Linked DNA regions of Homo sapiens. The protein of the gene in region 1 interacts with the protein of each later gene in a pairwise test. Each region holds a gene or a part of one and is shown in the gene's direction. Other genes may lie near its edges.

Region 1 (5,778 bases):
AAGGTCCCACTTCTCAACAGTGTTACAATGGCAATTAATTTTTTTTTATTTAATTTTTTTACTTTTATTTTTTTGAGACAGGTTCTTACCCTGTCATCCAGGCTGGAGTGCAGTGGTGTGATCTCAGCTCACTGCAACCCCTGCCTCCTGGGTTCAAGCGATTCTCCTGCCTCAGCCTTCCAAGTAGCTGGGATTACAGGCATGTGCCACCATGCCCGGCTAATTTTTATAATTTTAGTAGAGATGGGGTTTCACTGTGTTGGCCCGACTGGTCTCAGACTCCTGACCTCAAGCAATCCTGCCTGCCTCGGCCTCCCAAAGTGTTCAGGACTGGCGTGAGCCACCGTGCCCAGCCTCCAGCAATTACATTTCAACATGAGATTTGGAGGGAACATTCAAACCATAGCAGGTGCAAAATAAGAGACCTTAGTTTTAAGACAGGTTATCCTGTGATACAGAAGAATTTAGTTATTACCTAATATTTAAAACTTCTAAGCCAAGCATTCTGTTTGGTAAAGATTTCTCTTAACTGTTAGATATGGCAGAGTGTGTAACTAATTTTAGTATTGTCTTTGCAGTGTATGCTGATGGTAGCATATGTTTAGATATCCTTCAGAATCGATGGAGTCCAACATATGATGTATCTTCTATCTTAACATCAATTCAGGTAAGTGTGTGTTAGGATGTATTATAATTTGTCAGTATTCTGTAGGATATAGTCAGCTCCTTAGCACACAGGTAACCAATGGCAGAGCTTGGACAAGAATCCATGCTTTTCAGCTAACTTTTCTCTTTCAGTAGTGCCTACTTGGGATCCAGTCTGCAGTCCCTTTCCTGATTGTGTAAGTTACATGTTCTCACAGGTCAAACCTAATTTGTGTCCATGAAGCATAGCCAAGGGTTGTGGAAAAGAAAAAATGGCTTGGAAAAACCATAGGAACCTAAAGAAACTGCCAAGTGTAGATAAGCATTGAGTATGTTACCCCATCCAAGAAATTCTATTTTAAAAAAAGAAAGGAAAACTAATGTAACCATTTGTCGAAGCAGTCTGGCAGAATATTTCAGAATAGATCTTTGAATGAAAATTTAGGAGGGGTGGAGTGAGGGGTGTTTCGGTTTTGTGGATTTGAGAGGAGCAGAAATAATATGTTGGTTTGTGATGTTCTTTTTAAAGTTTTTTCTCTCACACTTCTTTAATTGTTTTTTTTTTTTTTTTTTTTTTTGAGACAGTGTCTTGCTCTGTTGCCCAGACTGGAGTGCAATGGCACAATCTTGGCTCACCGCAACCTCTGCCTCCCGGGTTCAAGTGATTATCCTGCCTCAGCCTCCTGAGTAGCTAGGACTATAGGCACATGCTACCACGCCTGGCTAAGTTTTTGTATTTTTAGTAGAGATGGGGTTTCACAGTGTTAGCCAGGATGGTCTCCATCTGACCTCATGATCCGCCCGTCTGAGCCTCCGAAAGTGTTGGGATTACAGGCGTGAGCTACTGCACCAGGCCAGTTCTGGTCATCTTACAAGCGTTGTTTTTCAACCTTCCTATCTCATTCTCTTCCTGCTAAATGTATATGTTTTGTTGATTAAAGGAAATAAGACTTATCTCCCAAATTTACTGTCAAGACATTTGCAAAGTAACTGCAGTAATAGAGTTTAACCTTGGAAAATGTTGGTTACTGAGAATTATTGATATCTTAACCAAATTAAGCTGTTTATTTCCTTGGTTTAATGAGAACGTCTCAATATGCTTAAGAATATTCTTTTCTGATTTCTTTCAAATTATAGGTATTTTTTTCTTTTCTTTTTTCTTTTTTTTTTTTTTGAGACGGAATTTCACCCTTGTTGCCCAGGCTGGAGTACAGTGGCGCGATCTCAGCTCACTGCAACCTCTGCCTCCCGGGTTCAAGCAATTCTCCTGCCTCAGCCTTCCGAGTAGCGGATTACGGGCATGCGCCACCACACCCGGCTAATTTTGTATTTTTAGAAATTACGGGGTTTTCTCCATGTTGGTCAGGCTGGTCTCGAACTCCCTACCTCAGGTGATCTGCCCGCCTCGGCCTCCCACAGTGCTGGGATTACAGGCGTGAGCCACCACACCCGACCTCTTTTTCTTTTTTAATAGAAACAGGGTCTCCCTATGTTGCCCAGGCTGGGCTTGAACTGCTGGGCTCAAGGGATCCTCCTGCCTTGGCCTCCCAAAGTGTTAGGATTACAGGCACAAGCCACTGTACCCAGCTGAAATTATAGGTCTTAAGGCAATTGAGAACTTTATTTCAGAAGCTTAAGTTCCTTAGCAGCAGGAAACCCCATAGTATTTATCAAATCATTTCTAAAAGTATTTAGACCCAAAATTATATGACATGTTAATCTCTGAAGTAATTTGTTGTTTTGTATAACTTTTCTGTAATATATTCCATATCTGACCCCTGTTGGTATAAAGAACAACTATGCAAATCTGTTTTTTCTTTTCTTTCCTCCTAGTCTCTGCTGGATGAACCGAATCCTAACAGTCCAGCCAATAGCCAGGCAGCACAGCTTTATCAGGAAAACAAACGAGAATATGAGAAAAGAGTTTCGGCCATTGTTGAACAAAGCTGGAATGATTCATAATAGACAACTGGTCTGTTAATCTTTTTCATCATTGTTGTGTATAATTTACCTCTCATTAGAAAGGCTAACAAATTTTAAGTGCCACAGGTTTTAAGGATTCTGCAGAAAAAAAAGAAAAAAGTCCTTCAGTTTAGAACCTACAAAAGCTTGTGTATCTTGATTAATGTACTTTTTATTGCATGGTGTGAACTAAGTTATTGCTGCATAAATTTGTAATATATCCTGTTTGTATTTTTTTCCAAGTGTATAATGTTGGTGTGGAGTTTTCATGACAGAATATACACATTTTGTAAATCTGTACTTTTTTCAAATATTGAATGCCTTATTTTTGAATTCTTTAGATTTTTAAATTGGAGAAAAGCACTTAAAGTTTTTTATATATGAATATTACATGTAAAGCTGTTAAAATACATAACTTCAGTGCAAGAGACTTTGTCACTTATTTCCTTATGTGTGTAGGAGGGGTTAATAAGTCTCTAGCTCTCCATCTATTGATAGTTTCATTTACAATTTCAAAAGAACATTCTTATATTTTATCAAGGAAGTCTTCAAATTTGATTCTAAATAGCGATTATAATCTCCAACTTTATTTTGAATGTACCTCTATTAGTTTCAATTGAGTAATTCTAGACATAACTGGTTTGACTCTGTCCAACTCTGTATTTAGGCCATTTGTTACAGTTTCTTCATGCATTACTTACTGTTAAAACTGTACCTTTTGCGATTTCACAGTTGGCACTTCTGCCATGAGCAGAGAACTGATGCGACTTGTTTTGCTGCTTGGTAGCACTTTAAAAAATTTTTTGATTAATGAAGAAAGTAAAACCATAAACATTTGCCAAAAATTCATGCCCCAGTATTAGCAATGAATTAGTTGCATTGGTTTGAGAAAGGCACATATTGGAGGGAAATCTTGGTGTAACTTAAATATTTGAAAATTACCTTTAATGCAATGCATATCTGTTTATTCTGGGAAATGTTTTAATGCCAGGGCCTGCTGAGTTGCTTCTTCTTGTGGAGATTTTTTTTTTAATCTCCTGAGTTGTATAAAAGTTGTACTGCATCTTAGTTTACTGGATAAATTTAAAACACAGTATTGTAGAAAGCTAATACAAAACTATCCTATGCCTTCAAATAGTATAGAAAATGGAAAATATACAAGTAAATTCTGTTGAACCACCTGTGTAGTCTCTCTAGTAGTTAAAACAGCTATTTTAGTAACCCCAAGAGTTTCTTCTCATATCCATAAAATTGGATTACAGTATGGCAATATCTACAGCTTCTATTCATTATGCAACGTTTAACATTGATTGGATAAATGCTTATAGGCTGGGCCAGGTGGCTCCCACCTGTAGTCCCAGCACTTTGGGAGGCAAAGGCGGGAGGATCACTTGAGGCCAGGACTTTGAGACCAGCCAGGGCAACATAATAAGACTTTTCTCTACTTTAAATTTTTTAAAAAATTAGTTGGGCATAGTGGCACTTGCCTGTAGTCTCAGCTACTTAGGAGGCTGAGGTGGCAGAATAGCTTATGCCTAGGAGGTTGAGGCTGCAGTGAGCTGTGATTATGCCATTGCACTCCAGCCTGGGTGACAGAGCAATACCCTGTCTTTAAAAATAAAAGCTATTACTTGGCAAATTCTGAGGTAAGTGTATGATCTTAGGGAACTTTGATACAAATGGGAATTCACTCACTGGAATCGTGGCTCCCAAAAAGATGCTTTAATTGTGTGGTGCTTTTATAGTTTAGCTCCAAAACAAACTATAGACATTCACTCCAGTAACTCCTAGATTAAATATACAGTAGCTATGAGGGTCTGCCCTCTTATTTCATTAAATGCTATTTGGTTACTATTTCAACATCCATTTTTATCCTTGACCTGTTTTTGCCTTTCCCAGTTTAAAACAGGAAAATTTCAAGTATTGGTAGATAATTATAAAGAAGTTACATGTTACTTTACAGGGAGGTCAGTGAGTTCTAACTCCAAAATTCAACATATGCATAAAACTCATAGCATCCACATTCCTTTTCGAGAAAATCCTTAAGAAGGTTCAATCTATACATAACTCCTCACTTTTTTCTGCAGCCTTGGAACAGATTCCTATTTCTTTGGTTAAGTACCAGATATAAACCTTCGATTTACAAGGTTGAGTCATACAAAAAGTGTTTACTTTAAACTCTAGGTCAGTTTCATAAATGTATGGTAGGGCAAGAAGCTAGAACTAAAATGTTTATGTTGGTACAAAGTTATATTGATGGATTCATGTTAAAAAGTTTAAATGCATGTGTGATACAATTCCCTGTAACAATACCCCAGCACAGAATAATCTGTGAAAGGCACTATTCTAAGCACTTTTAACATATATTATTTCATTTCAAATTCACAAATACGGTGGCTCATGCCTGTAATCCCAGCACTTTGGCAGGCTGAGGTGGGCGGATCACCTGAGTTCAGGAGTTCAAGACCAGCCTGGCCAACATGGTGAAACCCCCCGTCTCTACTAATAATACAAAAATTAGCCAGGCGTGGTGGCAGGTGCCTGTAATCCCAGCTACTCGGGAGGCTGAGGCAGGCGAACCACTTGAACCTGGGAGGCAGAGGTTGCAGTGAGCCGAGACCTCACCACTGCACTCCAGCCTAGGCAATAAGAGTGAGACTCTGGCTCAAAAAAAAAAAAAAAGATGATAATGAAACTAGCCACAGATAGACAGATGAAGTGACTTGCTCAAGATCAACCAGCCAGTAAGTCATAGAACTGGGATTTGAACCCTATGTGGTCTTACCCAGAAATGTGCTATCTTTTAAGAGGTTGAGATTGGTTTTAGAAATTCTGCAGAACTTCAACATCCAAATTTGTGGAAATACTTTTAACTGATTTAGTTTTATACAGACTTGTGTCTACTCCAATGAAAAGGTTTCCTTTTTTTTCCGAGACAAGGTCTTGCTCTGTTTCCCAGGCTGGAGTCCAGTGGCTCCAGGCGGCTCACTGCAGTCTCAACCTCCCAGGCTTAAGCGGTCCTACCACCTCAACCTCCTGAGTAGCTGAGACTACAGATGCATGCCACCATGCCTGGCTAATTTTTTTACTTTTGTAGAGACAATGTCTCACTATGTTGGCCAGGCTGGTCTCAAAGTCCTGAGCTCAACTGATCATCCTGCCTCGGCCTCC
Region 2 (7,869 bases), on another chromosome or scaffold:
TGAAAATAATTATTTCAGAATCATTTCCCTCATTTTTTATTACACATGTTGCTTTATGATAAAAGCAAAAAATATAAATTGCTATTCTAAACTTGGGGATTTTACTTTAGTGATTGTTTTATGTAATACCCAACTAAGTTTGTATATTTAGAAATCCAGAAACAATGCAAAAGTTTATAGTCCCGTTAAATAGCTGGAATCATGATGTTATATTTTAAGCAATCACTGCTGTTCTCATTCATAACAATGAGGATCTCCAGGTAGTTTAGGAAATGCTATTTTTAGAGCATCAACCCTTTAACTAACCCAAAAGCAGGGGAGAAACCTAGCATTGTCACTTTCTTGATTTGCCAGGCTTTTATCAGTTGGTCTATCATTGTATTTGAAAGACATTAATTAGGAGTTTTTGTTCTACTATTTTAGAATTTTGCTGACTAATATTCCTTTGACTAGTTTGAATAACATTGGATCAACTCAGATGATGGCATTCTTATGTTTTGATTAGTGTATACATGGTGTACATTTTTTCTTTTACTTTTCACTTATCTGTTCTTTTATTTAAAATAGGCTTTTTGTAGACAGCATATTGTCGAACCTTGCCTTTAAAAAAATTGAATCCGACAATATCTGTCTCTTTTTTTTTTTTCCTTGAGACTGGGCCTCGGTCTGTCCCAGGCTAGAGTGCAGTGGTGTGATCTCATGGCTCACTGCAGCTTTGACCTCCCAGGCTCAAGTGATTCTCCTGCCTCAGCCCGTCAAGTCGCTGGAGCTACAGGCACATGCCACCACGCCTGGCTAATTTTTGTATTTTTTGTAGAGACGGGGTTTCACCATCTTGCCCAGGCTGGTCTTGAACTCCTGAGCTCAAGCTGTCTGCTTGGCTTGGCCTCCCAAAGTGCTGAGATTATAGGTGTGAGCCACCACTCCCACCCCAGTATCTGTCTTTTAATTGCTGTTTAGACCAGGGACCAACAGACTTTTTAAATAAAGGACCAAATGGTACATGGTTACAGGTCATGCTTGTATGTCATGCAGACATTCAACTATGCTGTAACATGAAAGCTGCTGTACAGTATGCAAATGAACCAGTATGTCTGTATTCCAAGAACACTTTATAAAAATAGGCATGGGCCAGATATGGCTCCAGGACTCTAGTTTCCTAACCTTGGCTTAGTGTAATATGATCACTGCTGTCATTGAATTAAAATCTGTTATCCTTCTGGTTGTTTTGTATTCTATCTGTTCTTTGTTTTTCCATCTTTTTCTGCCTTCCTTTGAATTAATATGTTTTGTGATTCCACTTTATTTCCACTATTGGTTTATTATTTGTACCTCTTAAGTTTTACTTGTTACCTTAGGTTTACAATCTGCATCTTTAATTAACATGTCTGCATTCAAATAATATTATATTACTTCACATGTAGTTTAAGAGCCTTAGAACAGTGTACTCCCAATTCTTGCCTTCCATTCTTTGTGCTGTTATCATATAATTTTATGTTATTTTCTCTTTAAGCCCCACTAATGTTTATACTTTAAATGATTCTGTAACCACCCTCACTGTTAAGATTTTTCTAGGTTTGTGACAGTAAGTTACAAGATTCATAAATTTGCACTGTTTTACAGGTGGAGAATTAGGAATATAGAGACAATAAGAAAAAAGCGTTAGCCTGACAAAGTCAGAGTGCTAGAAGAGAGCTTTCAATAGCTACAGATAACATTTCCTCTCATTCTTACCACTCAGTGTTTTTCTTTAGTCATTACCTTAATTATAACTCTTACTTTATAAGAAAAAAAACTAAAAAGAAAAAAACACTTTTATTTTAAAATTTACATTTTTCTTCATGCACTATATAATAAACACGGGAGTCAAATATTCTTTTTTTTTTCTGTCTGACAGACTGAAGATTGTCATCCAGTTTTTACATTCTTGATTCTGGGGTGTGTATTTCAGCTTTGAGTGTTTCAAGCAACAGATTTGTTGATAATTTATGATTCTTTATAATTTCTAGGTGCATACATAAAATCAGTCATGTTTTAGTATGCATTTCAAAGACATAAAGCTTTATTTTTTTCTTAAGAAATACGGAGTGTAATATGTTTACTATAATTAGCTGATTTTCTTTCAAGAAAGTTTGTGGGGCTTTTTTTTTTTTTATAGTATTTGTGTGGAAGTAATCGAAAAGACAACATATTTATTGATCCTGGATACCAAACATTTGAGCAAGAATTGAATAAAATACTGCGAAGCTGGCAACCAAGCATACTTCCAGATGGTAATGCTATTTTCACTAAAGGTGTTGCTCTCTTGATATTAGGATTGTTATTTTTACAGAGTATGTTTGAAAATATTATAATTAAGTCACTTAAATTAGATAACATTTTCTGAACACTTACTCGAGCTCATCTGCCTTTCATCTCTTGTTGAATTAGAAACAAATGTGGTCAATAACTAGTGTTTATGAAGAACTTTGTAAGAAATGTAATCTACTTTCTCTGGAGTACGAGACTGGATGTTCATGTCTTAAGCCTTCCAGTGGAGCTTCTGATGTAAATTTCTCTTAAACCACTGTTTTCAGTCCGTGAAGAAAATGTGTATGTATGTGGAGTCATCAATTTTTTTCAGGAATTTAAATTCCTGAATTTTAATTTTAAAAGGATTTACACTGTTTTCTGACCACTGTTTGCTTGTCCTACTGAAGAACAGAAGCAAACATCCAGTCCCTTATTCCATAGATAATAGTTCCATAGTAGCCTCTGTATTGTTAAAGAGCTGCATAGGTAATTCTAGAATTATTCTAGTTGATCTAATATGAAAGGAGAATTGGTATAGATTTGTCCTTAAATTAACTGTGTCTGCTTCTAGATGGTTAAATGAAAACTTTTATTTATTATAATTCTTTTAAAATAGTTCTCTCTATTTAAGGGTCAATATTCTCTCGAGTTGAAGAAGACTATCTCTGGAGGATAAAACAACTAGGATCACACTCTCCAGTAGCTCTTCTGAATACACTGTTCTACTTTAACACTAAGTATTTTGGCCTGAAAACAGTGGAACAACACTTAAGACTTTCCTTTGGCACTGTGTTTAGGCATTGGAAAAAAAATCCTTTAACGATGGAAAACAAAGCGTGTCTTCGATACCAAGTGTCTTCCTTGTGTGGAACAGATAATGAAGGTAGTGTAACAGATTTCTATTTTTATTTTTATTTTTAAATTTTTTTTGAGACAGAGTTTCACTCTTGTTGCCCAGGCTGGAGTGCAGTGGTGCAGTCTCGGCTCACCGCAACCTCTACCTCCTGGGTTCAAGCAATTCTCCTCCCTCAGCCTCCTGAGTGGCTGGGATTACAGGCAGGCGCCACCATGCCTGGCTAACTTTGTATTTTTAGTAGAGACAGGGTTTCTCCATGTTGGTGAGGCTGGTCTCGAACTCCCGACCTCAGGTGATCTGCCCACCTCAGCCTCCCAAAGTGCTGGGATTACAGGCGTGAGCCACCACGCATGGCCCAGATTTCTATTTTGGGATTGTCTATGGTAGGGATATCCAAACCTTGCCTTACTAAAGACCACCTGGGTCACTTGTTAAGAACCTAAGGACTGTCAGTTTTATAAAATAAGACAACCTATGTCTTAAGATGTCTCAGTTCCTTTTGTTTGAAAAATTGTACATTACCAGAAGCCATAACTTAAAACTCCAAGGGGCACCTGGTCCTATTCTTTGGTATAACAGACACTAGGAGTGATGTTTATATCTTTCTTCAAGATTAGTTTAGGAGGTTTATTTCACTTTTATTTTTTAAGATAAAATTACTACTGGAAAAAGAAAACATGAAGATGATGAGCCAGTATTTGAACAAATTGAAAACACAGCCAATCCTTCCAGATGTCCTGTGAAAATGTTTGAATGCTACTTGTCTAAAAGGTGAGTGTTAATGATACTTAACTTTTAAAAATGTTGGTAGAAGTTGGCTGGTTTAAATTTAACATTACCAAGAAGTGACTTTTTTAGATGGATTCTTTCTCAGATTTCTTCTCTCTCAGTTATACCCAAGTTCATTCAGTTATAATCTTTTATTTTGAAATACCCAGTTTATACATCATACTTAGAGTTTAAGCATGTGTTAAGAAATCTCTCTCTACTAATGAAATTTCTACTGCTGTCATTTTCTTTTGGAGATGGGGTCTTGCTCTCTCACCGAGGCTGGAGTACAGTGGCACGTGATCATAGCTCATTGCAACCTCAAACTCCTGGGCTTAAGCCATCCTCCCACCCTCTGCCTCCTGAGTTGCTGGGACTGCAGGCATGTGCCTCCATAGCTGGCTAATTTTTGTATTTTTTGTAGAGACAGGATCTCACTGTGTTGCCCAGGCTGGTCTTGAACTCCTGACCTCAAGCCATCCTCGTGCCTCAGCCTCCCAAAGTGCTGGAATTACAGGCATGAGCCATTGCGCCTGTCATTGTCTTTTAAATTACAGCAATTCCAATGACAGCAAAGCAAGGGACACAAACTTTTTCTTAAACGGTCAGATGGTAAATATTTTAGGCTTTTGGGCCTATGGAATCACTATTGTAACTAATCGGTTCTCTTGTGACTAGAAAGCAGCCATATACTATATATAAATTCATGGCATGTGGCTGTGTTATAATAAAACTTCACATAAGCAGGTGGCTGGCTGTAGTTTGCCAATGCCCGGTGTAAAGGTATGCTCAAAGGTAGTATAGATAGGTGGAAATGTAAGTGAAGTATTTACATTTAAGAGAAAACAGTCAAGCAGGTATGAAAAATGGAATCATGTTCTGGAATTTTTTTTCCCCTCAATCTCAGACCAACAGGCATTTTAAAAAGTTTAAGCCAATAAAACGTTTAGAGACCATAGATTATTTTATGCTTGCCTGTTGTTTTAAGTAAGCACTCTCTAATTTTCAGAAGGTCAGCATGAATTCAAAATGTACTTCCCTGTTTAAACAAATTTATAAATCACAGGTCCCCAGGATGGCCCTCAAGGACTTGTAAAAACAATAGTATCATGTATAGGATGATATTAGTACAAGTTGAATGCGCCTTATCCAAAATGCTTCTGACCAGAAGTGTTTTAGATTTCAGATTTTTTCGGATTTTGGAATATTTGCATATACATTATAAGATGTCTTAGGGCTGGGACCCAACTCTAAACATGAAATTCATTTATATTTCATATACACCTTATACATGTAGCCTGAAGATAATTTTATTTATGCATAGCCTGAAGGTGATTTTATTTTCCCCTTGGGGTTGCTGAATAACCTGTGTGTTATGTGCCTGTGTTTTGGGCGCGAACTCCTCACATGAGGTCAGGTGTGGAACTTTCCACTTTTGGTGTCATTTTGGCAAAGAGTTTCAGATTTTGGATTTTTGAATTAGGGATGCTCAGCCTGTATTTCTCACCATGGTTTAGGGTGGTCCTATTTGGCTGCAGTAGTGTCAGGGTCTTCAGTTGGTAGTAACTATTTGTTAGTAGGAAATTCCTATCTCACTATTACCTTGTTGGTATTTTAAAAATTGAGTTTCTATTATGTAGTGCTGTAAGAATTTTTTAATTTTATGTGCTGCCATACATATTTCATCAATTCTAAGACATTTTCACATTTCACTATTTCTGAAACTGGGATGCACAGTTTAAATTGTTGCATCTTGAAATCATAATTGGCAGTGTTTCACTTGCTTAATGGTAGCATTAAAATAATGAGTGGTGTGTCTATTGATAGTGTCTTGGATTTAGTGAAGTAGAATTAAAATTGTGGGAAATAATCTCTATCTCAGAAAATAACTTTGAGAATATTTTAATGACAGAATAATGGAGACAGTGGGGCATAGGGGGTCTGGTCATATAACGTGATTAATGGGGTCTGAATTATTCTTGAAAAAAGAAAAAGTTGTGGAAATTTTGTGAAATTGACTTTTTCTCTTTTTCCTCCCGCCTCCAAAGTCCACAGAATCTTAATCAGAGGATGGATGTTTTTTATTTGCAACCAGAATGCTCTAGTTCTACAGATAGCCCTGTCTGGTATACGTCTACTTCACTGGACCGAAACACCTTGGAAAATATGCTTGTACGGGTTCTTCTAGTAAAAGATATTTATGATAAAGACAATTATGAACTGGATGAAGACACAGACTAAAAAGGAACGTTGCAGAAGCAATCGGGATAAAACAGCATTAGATAGTCATGCTGCTAGATCTTTATTATGGAAAACATTTCAAGTTTACTCCTTCTGTTTTGAGTTTTGTAGCAGTGTACCCACGCTGGGTATTACCATGTAAATAATCTGTGAGTGAAAGTTGCCATTATTCTATGTAGTGGTTTTAGGATACTTAACAAATACATTCAAATTCTTTTTTTATTATTATTTATTTGATTAGGTATGTTTGTAACTTTTTACATTACAGAATATGAATGAGAATGTGCCATGTATAATTTTTTTCTTGTAGTAAGAAACATCCATATTGCACAACTCTACTGTTGCAAAGCTTCCTTGGAAGGGGGCTCTTTTACTGGGTTCTTAACCAGATGGTTGTGTATGGGTAGCACTACTAAAAGTTTAGAACTTGCAGTGTCTTTCGGAATTTTTAAAATAAACTGTAAACTAATAGGCTGGGGTTTTTGTTTTGTTTTGGGGTTTTGTTTTGTTTGGTTTTACATTTTAGTTACTGAAGCCTTACAAGGTTATGTAGAGAGATACCATCTTCTGTACCAAAAATAGACAAGAGAATGCTGTCAATATTGGTGTACTGTAATGTGAATCTATGCTGGTGAAAACAATTTTTTGTTCCCCTTATTAAAACCTTAGTGTCCTTTTCTCATTTGTGGCTTTCTGCATCACCCAATCAATAAAAAACAAATATATATATGTATATATATGTATGTATGTGTGTGTGTATATATATATATATATATATATATATAAATGATTGTAAGTTGAAAACAAGATCATCAAGACATTTCCTTTGTAAAAATGTCTGGTGAAAGTATAAAATTCTGTTTTCTTCTATGCCAGCCATAAGTATCTGAAATCCTCTTCATTTATAGAGGTTTGATTTTTATTTCTTTTTTTCCCTCTTAAGGATACAGATCATGCTGCAATGTTAGCTGTGTAGTACTCTAAAACTTAGCAATTTTATCAGAATTCTTGTGCCTGTTTACATTGGATAAAATTGTTTTTAGAAATTCCACTCCTGAAATAGTTACAGAAAGTCAAGCTATGTTAAATAAGATAGGATCACATTTTATAATGAAGATTACCAGTGTAGTAATTCTGATATTGCAAATGATTGAGGAACAAACAAAGAAACTAATAGAGAAAGTCAGTCTCAGAGGAAATCCCATTTAATGTTAGATTGTTTGGCTTTTGAAATTACTTCTTATAGAAGATTGCATTAAAAAAAAAAACAACTTTGTGCTTCTGCATAGCAATTTATCCATTCAGACCTTTTCTTTTAGAATAAGGAAACTTAAAATCTACTTTCTAAAGACTGAACAAAGTGCTAGCTGCAAATTATCTTGAAATCATTTGGCTCTTTTCTAGCATGTGTGTAATCATGTTTTCTTCTGATTCCTGAATGACCATGGTAGCATTAGTGTTTAGAAATTGTTCAGGGGAAAATTGAGCTATTTTCCATAGTGGCTAGCAATTGCTACACATCCTTAGATACTCCTCTCTCCCATAGGATAAATGTTACAGCACACAAAAGAAATTTTCTCAATTCTGATTTGGAAAATTTCACAGGTGTCATTATTGTATATCTAAGCAATAATTATCTGAATGTTTTGGCATAAAAAATTATAATGTTCTAACTTGTTTTATAAGTTGAATGACTTTTCAGTCCCTTGATT
Region 3 (8,510 bases), on another chromosome or scaffold:
CATGTTGCAGTAAAAACTATGGTGCTCCTTGTCTCTGGAAAGAGCTATGTCAATTGGCTGATCACCCTTCAGAGATGTGGTAAGACTGATTCATTCTGGCAGTACCTAGAAGACTGATCTAGATGATCTCTAAGATGTTCCTGAAAGCCTTTTCCTCCTGAATGTGTCTTGTTACCCATGATTATCTTTAAGTAATAAAGTTCAGTGTAGTGGAAAGTGTGTGCATTACAGTGGGGACAGAGCTCTATTTGGAACTTACTGTGTGATTTTGGGCAGGATACTTACCCTTTCTGAGCTTCAGTGTCCTCATTATCTCTCGAGACTGTTCTAAGAATTCATTAGATGACATATAATTCAAAACACCATTTGGGATTTAATGAATGGTTTTGTTTCATTTCCTACAAGATGACTTGTGATCAAACATCTGGGACCATTTACGATTTTTAAAGTAGAGTGTTGAAATGAGCTAATTTTCTTAGGCTTCCAATGTAGGTTTTCATTTTTTAAAAACAATAAACTTGATTAAGATTTGATTAGATGCTTTGTGACACAGTCTCTTTAAAAAATGACAAGGATGGTGAAAGTAGAAATGAATGGAATCAGAAGCCAGATGGCCAACATCATCTCTGAAACTTGAAACCGCAAGATCATCACTTGAAGTCTTTCCTTCCAAGAGAGCTAACAAACTCAAACTATACTATTCAACATCATAAAAGTATTTTAGCTTCCTGGAAGGTACTCCAAATTTCAGTAAGAAAAGCTCAGTGACAAGCACTTACTTTGAATTTTTAAAGGAAACTGTAATCTCACTGAATGAATCAATTTTTTTTTTTTTTACTGTTTTTCCCCAAGATGGAGGTCTCACTCTGTCACTCAAGCTGGAGTACAGTGGTGTGATCTTGGCTCACTGCAACCTCTGCCTCCCGGGTTCAAGCGATTCTCCTGCCTCAGCTTCCTGAATAGCTGGGACTACAGGTGCGTGCCACCATGTCCAGCTAATTTTTGTATTTTTAGTAGAGACGGGGTTTCATCATGTTGGCCAGGCTGGTCTCAACCTCCTGACCTCAAGTGACCCGCTCGCCTCGGTCTCCCAAAGTGCTGGGATTACAGGTGTGAGCCACCGCCCCAGCCACAATATGTGTTTTCTAGCTGTTCTCTTTTACACCTCAAAGAAGAAGTGGAAGTAAACAAACATCCCATTAATTCACAGAAAACCATTATTTACAAATAAGTTTCTTCAAATTTATATTTTATTTGTTAACAAAGAGAGCTACCCAACAGTCAGAAATCACTGAATTGCTAAACTCACTTATTGTGTACTGAATAGTTAATATCGCTAAAGCAGAAATTATACTTATTTTTTAATTTTTAATTTCCATAGTTTTTTGGGGAACAGGTGGTATTTAGTTACATAAGTTCTTTGGCGATTTTTAAGATTTTGGTGCACCCATCACCCGAGCAGTATATACTGAACCCAATTTGTAGTCTTTTATCCCTTACGCCCTTCTCACCCTTTCCCTGAAAGTCCCCAAAGTCCATTGTATCATTCTTATGCCTTTGCATCCTCATAGCTTAGGGACATATGAGAACATATGATGTTTAGTTTTCCATTCCTCAGTTGAAGTAGAAGTATTATATTTATTATTAATGATCATGACTCTTTTATTATCTATTACCATATTATATTACCATGGTACTCTTGAGAGTTCTCATTACGGGCTTTTTTTTTTTGAGACTGAGTCTCACTCTGTCGACCAGGCTGGAGTGCAGTGGCACAATCTCAGCTCACTGCAACCTCTGCTGCCAGAGTTCAAGCAATTCTCCTGCCTTAGCCTCCCTAGTGGCTGGGATTACAGGCATGCACCACCACACCTAGCTAATTTTTTGTATTTTTAGTAGAGATGGGGTTTCACCATGTTGGCCAGGCTGGTCTTGAATTCCTGACCTCAGGTGATCCACCTGCCTCAGCCTCCCAAAGTGTTGGGATTACAGGTGTGAGCCATCGCACCCAGCTGGGGCTATCTTTAGTAGCAGATGGTAACTGAGCTGGGCAATTGTTCTTTGACATTTCCAGTTCTTATCTGTTAACATGGACAGTGATTTAAATAGGCAGCTGCATGGACGGCCTCTCCCTAACTGCTGCTATCTTGTATCTCCTCATTGGTAATTATTTTTCCTAGCCCAAATTCCACGTCAAACACTATCAATATTCTGGGGACCACCCTTTCATACACTGCTCTGTACACATACCTGTTTATACATATTTTAACAAAAGTGGAATATTTACATACTGTTGTTATCATAGCCAAGCTCAACAGCATCAAAAGCATTTTTAGGTACTTAATTCAAGTGGCTGTAAAATTTAAAAAAAATCATTTTTTCTGATACTATATCATCTTTGTACCCGTATATTTCAATTTCTTGAATGTTCATTACAATTTTATTTTTACTTTTTATTCTTTCTTGAGACAGAGTCTCACTCTATCACCCAGGCTGGAGTGCATGGTATGGTCTCAGCTCACTGCAACCTCTACCTTCTGGGTTCAAGCAATCCTCCCACCTCAGCCTTCAGAGTAGCTGGGAACACAGGCGTGCACCACCACGCCCGGCTTATTTTTGAATTTTTTTGTAGAGACGGGGTTTCTCCGTGTTGCCCAGTCTGGTCTTAAAGTCCTGAGCTCAAGCAATCTGCCTGCCTCGGCCTCCTGAAGTGCTGGGATTAGAGGCAAGCCACTGCGCCCAGCCTTTATTACAATTTTAAATGTTTTTCTCTGTGTTAGCGAACCTTTGATGGACTGTTTTAAAGAGTGTTAAAGAGTGTTTAAATCACTGTGAAATGCACATTCTGTCTTAATATTTATAATTATTAGGGTACCTTCATTAATAGTGTACATTGCATAGTGCCAAACGAGATCACCACATCACTTCTAAAGGATTCCTGGAAGTCTGAGTCACAAGCATGAGACAACAGCTGCAGGACTGGGTGGTGAAGGTTGTGAAAACTTCCTGGCTTAAACAGGAATTTGACCCAAAACAAGAAGTCTTAGGGAAGATAGCTTAGGGCTTGTCTGGTGGCACCACAATGCCATCAAATGCCCAGCCTCTTTACAGTTTTCTGCTCTGCCATCCTTGGAATGCAGGCCATTGTTCTCCTGTTTGTTGTTTCATGACTGAACTATGAGTGCTGTAGCTCTTCACGTTCCTCCTGGAAGACAGGTGTAGGGCAAAGATGAGCTCTGATTCGCAGAGCCCTTCCATCTATATGCTTTCTTAGAAGCCTCAGCAATAAGTTCAACATTCAACTCATTGGCTTGAAGTGTGTCAAATGGCTGCCCCTTGCTTCAAAGGAGTCTGAGAAAATAACTTTAGCTAGAATTAAAGTTCCATTAGAGTGCCTGGGTAGACAAAGAAGAGTCAGCTACAGAAGGCCAGTATCATAGCAAGTTGTTGCTCCATGACTGGAAACAAAGAAGACTTCACTCTTTACTTCAGATGCGCAGTTGATAGAGTACAGCTAAGATATGGTACGTGTTCTACCATGAAGAGCAAGAGCAAGGTGAGGGAGGGTACGGTGTAAGAGATCCTGCTGCATTAGCTGTTGAGAGGAAGAATTTCCTCCTGGTCACTATGTTACTGGGGGTCCTTGCTCCCCAAGTTCCCAAGATGGTGGCAGGTCGCTTCCAAGATGGTGACGGGCCACTTCCGAGATGGTGGCAAGTCTTGTGTTCTCTGACCTGGGGTTCTTGGCCTCATGGATTCCAAGGAATGGAATCTTGGGCCAAGCGGCGAGTGTTATAGCTCTATTAGAAGCTGTGGGTCATGGAAGAGAATCGTGGAACCCAGTGACTAGTGTTTAGCTAGATTAGGACGAACCTGGGCACTTAGCCCTGCAGGAACAAGGGCAAGCCTTTAGCCCGATCAGGAGCAGCAATGGGCGCCTCGCTGGATCCAGAGGGATGGAAGTCAGCTGTGGGTCTGTGACAGCGGCAGACAGCAGTGGTGGACGGTGAGCGAAAGCTCAGCTTGAGCTGTGACACACACGTACCAGAAAAGTGTGCAATTGCAAGATTTAATAGAGTGAAAACAGAGCTTCCATACAAAGGGAGGGGACCCAAAGAGGGTAGCCACCGCTGGCTTGAATGCCTGGGTTTATATCCTGATCATTGTCCCTCCTGTTGTGCTCTCAGGCGATAGATGATTGGCTACTTCTTTACCTCCTGTTTTTCCCTAATTAGCATTTTAGTGAGCTCTCTTTACTACCTGATTGGTCGGGTGTGAGCTAAATTGCAAGCCCCGTGTTTAAAGGTGGACGTGGTCAATTTCCCAGCTAGGCTTAGGGATTCTTAGCCAGCCTAGGAAATCCAACTAGTCCTGTCTCTCAGTACCCCCTCTCAACAGGAAAACCCAAGTGCTATTGGGGAGGTTTGACCACCGCTCTAACTGCTTCCTGCTGAATTGGGGCACAGTAGGGGTTGTGCAGTTGAGATTTCCTCCGTAGGGGTGCCTTGTCTCTCAACTAATTCAGTGGTGGCTACCTCGAAGCCCTTCTGAAGCTAAGAGGGAAAGAGACCAGCTCGCAAAGTCCCCTATGTTATCTACTCCTAAGTGGAAGCTGGGAGCTGTGAAAATGCACATCTAACAACCCTTAACTTACTATACCGACTTCTAAACCACAGTAGAAAATGAAGAAAAGTTCGGCTATGGGCAATAGACTCAACCTTTTGTTCTATGTCTAACCTATAAAATAGAAAAATAATACTGTCATCCCTCATCTCCCACCATACTGAACACGCATTAGGTGCTCAATGAATACTTGTCCATTTTAGTGAAGATTAAGAGGAATGAGACGGAAACTGACACTTGAGAGGCTGGCACACGCCAGAACTGCACCACACTTTGCACTCATAGCTCATTTACTCATCAGCTTGTGGTCAGGTAGGCATTACCGTCCCCATTAGAGAAGTCAACGGAGGCTCAGCAAGGACGGCCAGGGTCCCCCAGAAAGTAGAGGAGGACTTCAGGTTTAACCAAAAGCCTGTACTCTTTACACATGTACCCCATGCCTTCTCCACCAAAGCTCCTGGCACCGTGCTTTGCAGACAGACGACGCTCAACACATTTTGAGCAGAAGCGTGGTTCAGCACCAGGAAGGACACCAACTTTTGCAGAGACGACTCTTGGGATGGAGAAAGACTTCCCAAATCTTCAGGGTGCGGTCAAGACAGGGTAGGCTAGCGCCAGGGGAGCTAGTGGCTAGGCCCCAGGGCAGCTGGGGCCGAGGCCGAGCAAACGGCCAGGGGAGAGGCTCCCAGGAGCCCGATCTGCCGCTGGGCGACGCGAAGCCTGGCGGCTAGAGTCCCGGGCAGCCCGAGCACGGCGGGAAGGCGGCAGCAACAGGATCGGCAGGGATGGCGGGGACGGGGGAGGTCCATGTGCAGGGGCGTGCCGCCGGTGACGCACTTCCGCCCTGCCTGTTCCGGCTTAAAGGGGCCCCAGACAATCCTCGCAATAACAACAAAACCGGCGCGCCAGCGGTGGCGCAACGGCTCTCGTCCCCGCCCTCCTGCTACCTGTAGTCGCCTGGGCCGCCCCCGGCCCAGCCCTGCCTTGCCGCCACCCTGCGCTGTCCAGACTGAGGGGTCAGGCGGAGAGCCGGGCCGCGCCTTCGGTCAGCTTCTCTCCCTTTCACCCGCGCCTCCTCGCGAGACCCGGGGCTGGGCCGTGCCGGTCGCCGCGCAGCAGGAAGGGAGCGGCTGCCACGGAAAACGCCTGGCCGGACGGTGTGGCTGGCGGCCCTGCCTGGGCGCGGAGGGCGGCGGTGGCGGGCCCCGCGGCCTTCTCTCAGGTACCCCAGTGCCCGCTGACCGCCCTGAGCGGCCCAGCTGCTTCCCCGATCCGCACCGCGGGGCCGTGGCGTAGGGGCCTTGTTGCGTTCCAGCTTGGGGGTCGCGGTGGGGCGGGGCAGTGACCCCGGGCCGGCCGTTGTGCCCTCATCCCTCCCACCCTTCCTTCGTATAGCTTCCTTTCTCCTCACGACGGCCTCCACAGTCCGGAGCCCGGCGGAGCCCGGACCTGGCGGGGAGAGCTGCCTCCACGGCCGGGCACCCAGACCCCACCGTCGCAGTCGCCACCACCTCAGTCCATCCTTGGTACCGGCAATGGGCTTCGTATCCTCCAGTGCACTTGTAACTGACTTGGACACGGAATACTAAGAACTCACTTCTGTCCTCATCCCAGTCGCGCCGGCGGTGACCATCTCGGCTCTTTTGGGCTTAACTGCCGCTCCTCTGGACTCTGTCTGACTTTGGGGGCACCATGGACCAAAGTGGGATGGAGATTCCTGTGACCCTCATCATTAAAGCACCGAATCAGAAATACAGTGACCAGACTATTAGCTGCTTCTTGAACTGGACCGTGGGGAAACTAAAAACGCATCTATCTAACGTTTACCCTAGCAAACCAGTAAGTGTGTAAAAGCTGGGGGCAGCTGCTCTGACCAGCAGCTTTTCGTGCCGTGTACCCTCCTTTTTCCTGCTTCTCCCCTCCAGTCTTGAATCAAATAGGTCTCTTTTGGTAGACCGCGAGGTATTTTGAGTTCTGAGGTTGTGTCTCCTGAGTGTTCGAACCATCATTAATATTTTCCTGATGAGGTTCAGTTAATTAGTAAGAGGAAGCAGAAATATCAAGGGACTTAAGAATTGGCAGGCAAAGACCGGGCGCGGTGGCTCACACCTGTAATCCCAGCACTTTGGGAGGCCAAGGCGGGCGGATCACGAGGTCAGGAGTTCGAGACCAGCCTTACCAACATGGTGAAACCCTATGTCTACTGAAAATACAAAAATTAGCTGGGCGTGGTGGCGCATGCTTGTAATCCCAGCTACTCAGGAGGCTGAGGCAGGAGAATCGCTTGAACCCGGGAGGCGGAGGTTGCAGTGAGCCAAGATCGCACCACTGCCCTCCAGCCTGAGTGGCACAGTGAGACTCTGTCTCAAAGAATTGGCAGGCATGGAAAAGGGACTACTTTCTTTGGACTTAAAGTCATCAACCTAATATGCGAGTGAGAGATATATCCTTTCTTAAAAAAAAAAAAGATAAAGCACTACAACCCGTATCAGAGCTTTTATTGCTTATTACACTAAAATTCCATTTTACTTTCAACACTTGGCCCAGAAACTTAAACAGAAATTGAAGATTTTTTTTTCTTAGAAATAAGTATGTGTCCCCTATAAAAATTATACTTTCAAGGTTACTATATATGTTTCAAGGACCAAAGAATTATAAGTTGTAGATTCGTTTTCACCACAACCCCTTTCAACATTTTTCTCCTGTAGAGGATACATGGACATTAGTTTAAAAGAGAACTGCCCTCCACCCCACCACCATTTGGTGCATCCCTCTCATATGGCTTTTCCATTCTGTGTTCCATTCTGAATCATAACTGGATATTGCAGAGATAATAAATAAAATATAGACAGTACAGCTCCATCTGTCCCCAAAGTCAGATTTGAAAGGCCGTGGTTGGTAATCAAGGAGTCTTGGAATAGTTTAGAAAAGAAGTATACCGTCATGTAGAGTACTGTATATGAAAGTGAGGCTTTCGCATTCTCCACTGTATACATTTTTTATTCTTGAATAAGTAGTGTTTAATTACTAAAACTTTTGTTTAATAAAGAGGGTCGGATTTTAGGGTGGGAAATAACTTTTGGCATCAGGTACATTTAAGCATGGATCTGTTGGAAGGCAACTATGCTTTCTACACTTAACACTTGTTTTATGCACCTAAGTTAAGGAAGACACTTGATCTATATTACGATATTAATGAATTATGAGCATTTCAGTGTTGTAGTATTAAGTTTAGTTAGGCTTTTAGACTTGCAGAAGAACCACAGAAATAGGACGGTTATTGCAAAAACAGGAGGTTTAGAAAAACAACTCTTAATCGGCATTAGCTGTGTTTATCAGTACTTTGTGATACAAATATTTTTAGTAGGAGGGAAAAAAAACCCTGAGGAATTTAAGTACTTAAACTAGTTAGAGCCCCTGTTTATTCACATCTTTTGTTTGAAAGTTAAGATTTACACAGGGAGTAAGAATCTGTTTGAAAATACCTTGATTACAAAAGATTTCCTGTTGCATATGATTAGTTTCACACATTTTTGAAGTGGAAAATAGGTTTTTAGGATAGTCAATTGAAAGTCATAGACTTCCATAATACTGTTCATAGCAAATATATGCTCTGGTATGTACGTAGGCGAGATCTTTACATTGTACTATTAAACCAAAAGGGACCTAGTCTGCAGTTTATAGACTTTTTTCTAAAGCTTTTTTAAAAAAAAGTACCTGAGACGGGAGTGGGAAGCCTGTCTGCCTTATCTACCCATGAAGAGGCCTGCTTTTGGCAGGAGGTCTGCCTGTGCAGCACTGATCACTAGTGGAGGATGTCAGTGCCGCTGTGCATTAGTTAGCTGTCTGAGGATGAGATCTGTTACAGAACTCCTTCCCAAACTGCC

Evidence for each region.
Region 2: the proteins of UBE2B (region 1) and ZMYM2 interact in a two-hybrid assay, tested with the Homo sapiens proteins (one study listed by BioGRID).
Region 3: the proteins of UBE2B (region 1) and HERPUD2 interact in binary tests that used the Homo sapiens proteins (3 or more experiments, as listed by UniProt).

The regions. Positions count from the first base shown.
Region 1 is NC_000005.10:134,387,747-134,393,524, forward strand, and holds the end of UBE2B (ubiquitin-conjugating enzyme E2 B), read left to right. Parts: intron 1-578; coding exon 579-667; intron 668-2,478; coding exon 2,479-2,607; 3' UTR 2,608-4,362; downstream 4,363-5,778. UniProt on the Homo sapiens protein: E2 ubiquitin-conjugating enzyme that accepts ubiquitin from the ubiquitin-activating enzyme E1 and transfers it to a E3 ubiquitin-protein ligase. In vitro catalyzes 'Lys-11'-, as well as 'Lys-48'- and 'Lys-63'-linked polyubiquitination.
Region 2 is NC_000013.11:20,079,858-20,087,726, forward strand, and holds part of ZMYM2 (zinc finger MYM-type protein 2), read left to right. Parts: intron 1-2,158; coding exon 2,159-2,273; exon of another isoform or gene 2,274-2,279; intron 2,280-2,923; coding exon 2,924-3,175; intron 3,176-3,798; coding exon 3,799-3,919; intron 3,920-5,964; coding exon 5,965-6,157; 3' UTR 6,158-7,869. UniProt on the Homo sapiens protein: Involved in the negative regulation of transcription.
Region 3 is NC_000007.14:35,692,136-35,700,645, reverse strand, and holds the start of HERPUD2 (homocysteine-responsive endoplasmic reticulum-resident ubiquitin-like domain member 2 protein), read left to right. Parts: upstream 1-5,510; 5' UTR 5,511-5,845; exon of another isoform or gene 5,846-6,018; 5' UTR 6,019-6,315; coding exon 6,316-6,462; intron 6,463-8,510. UniProt on the Homo sapiens protein: Could be involved in the unfolded protein response (UPR) pathway.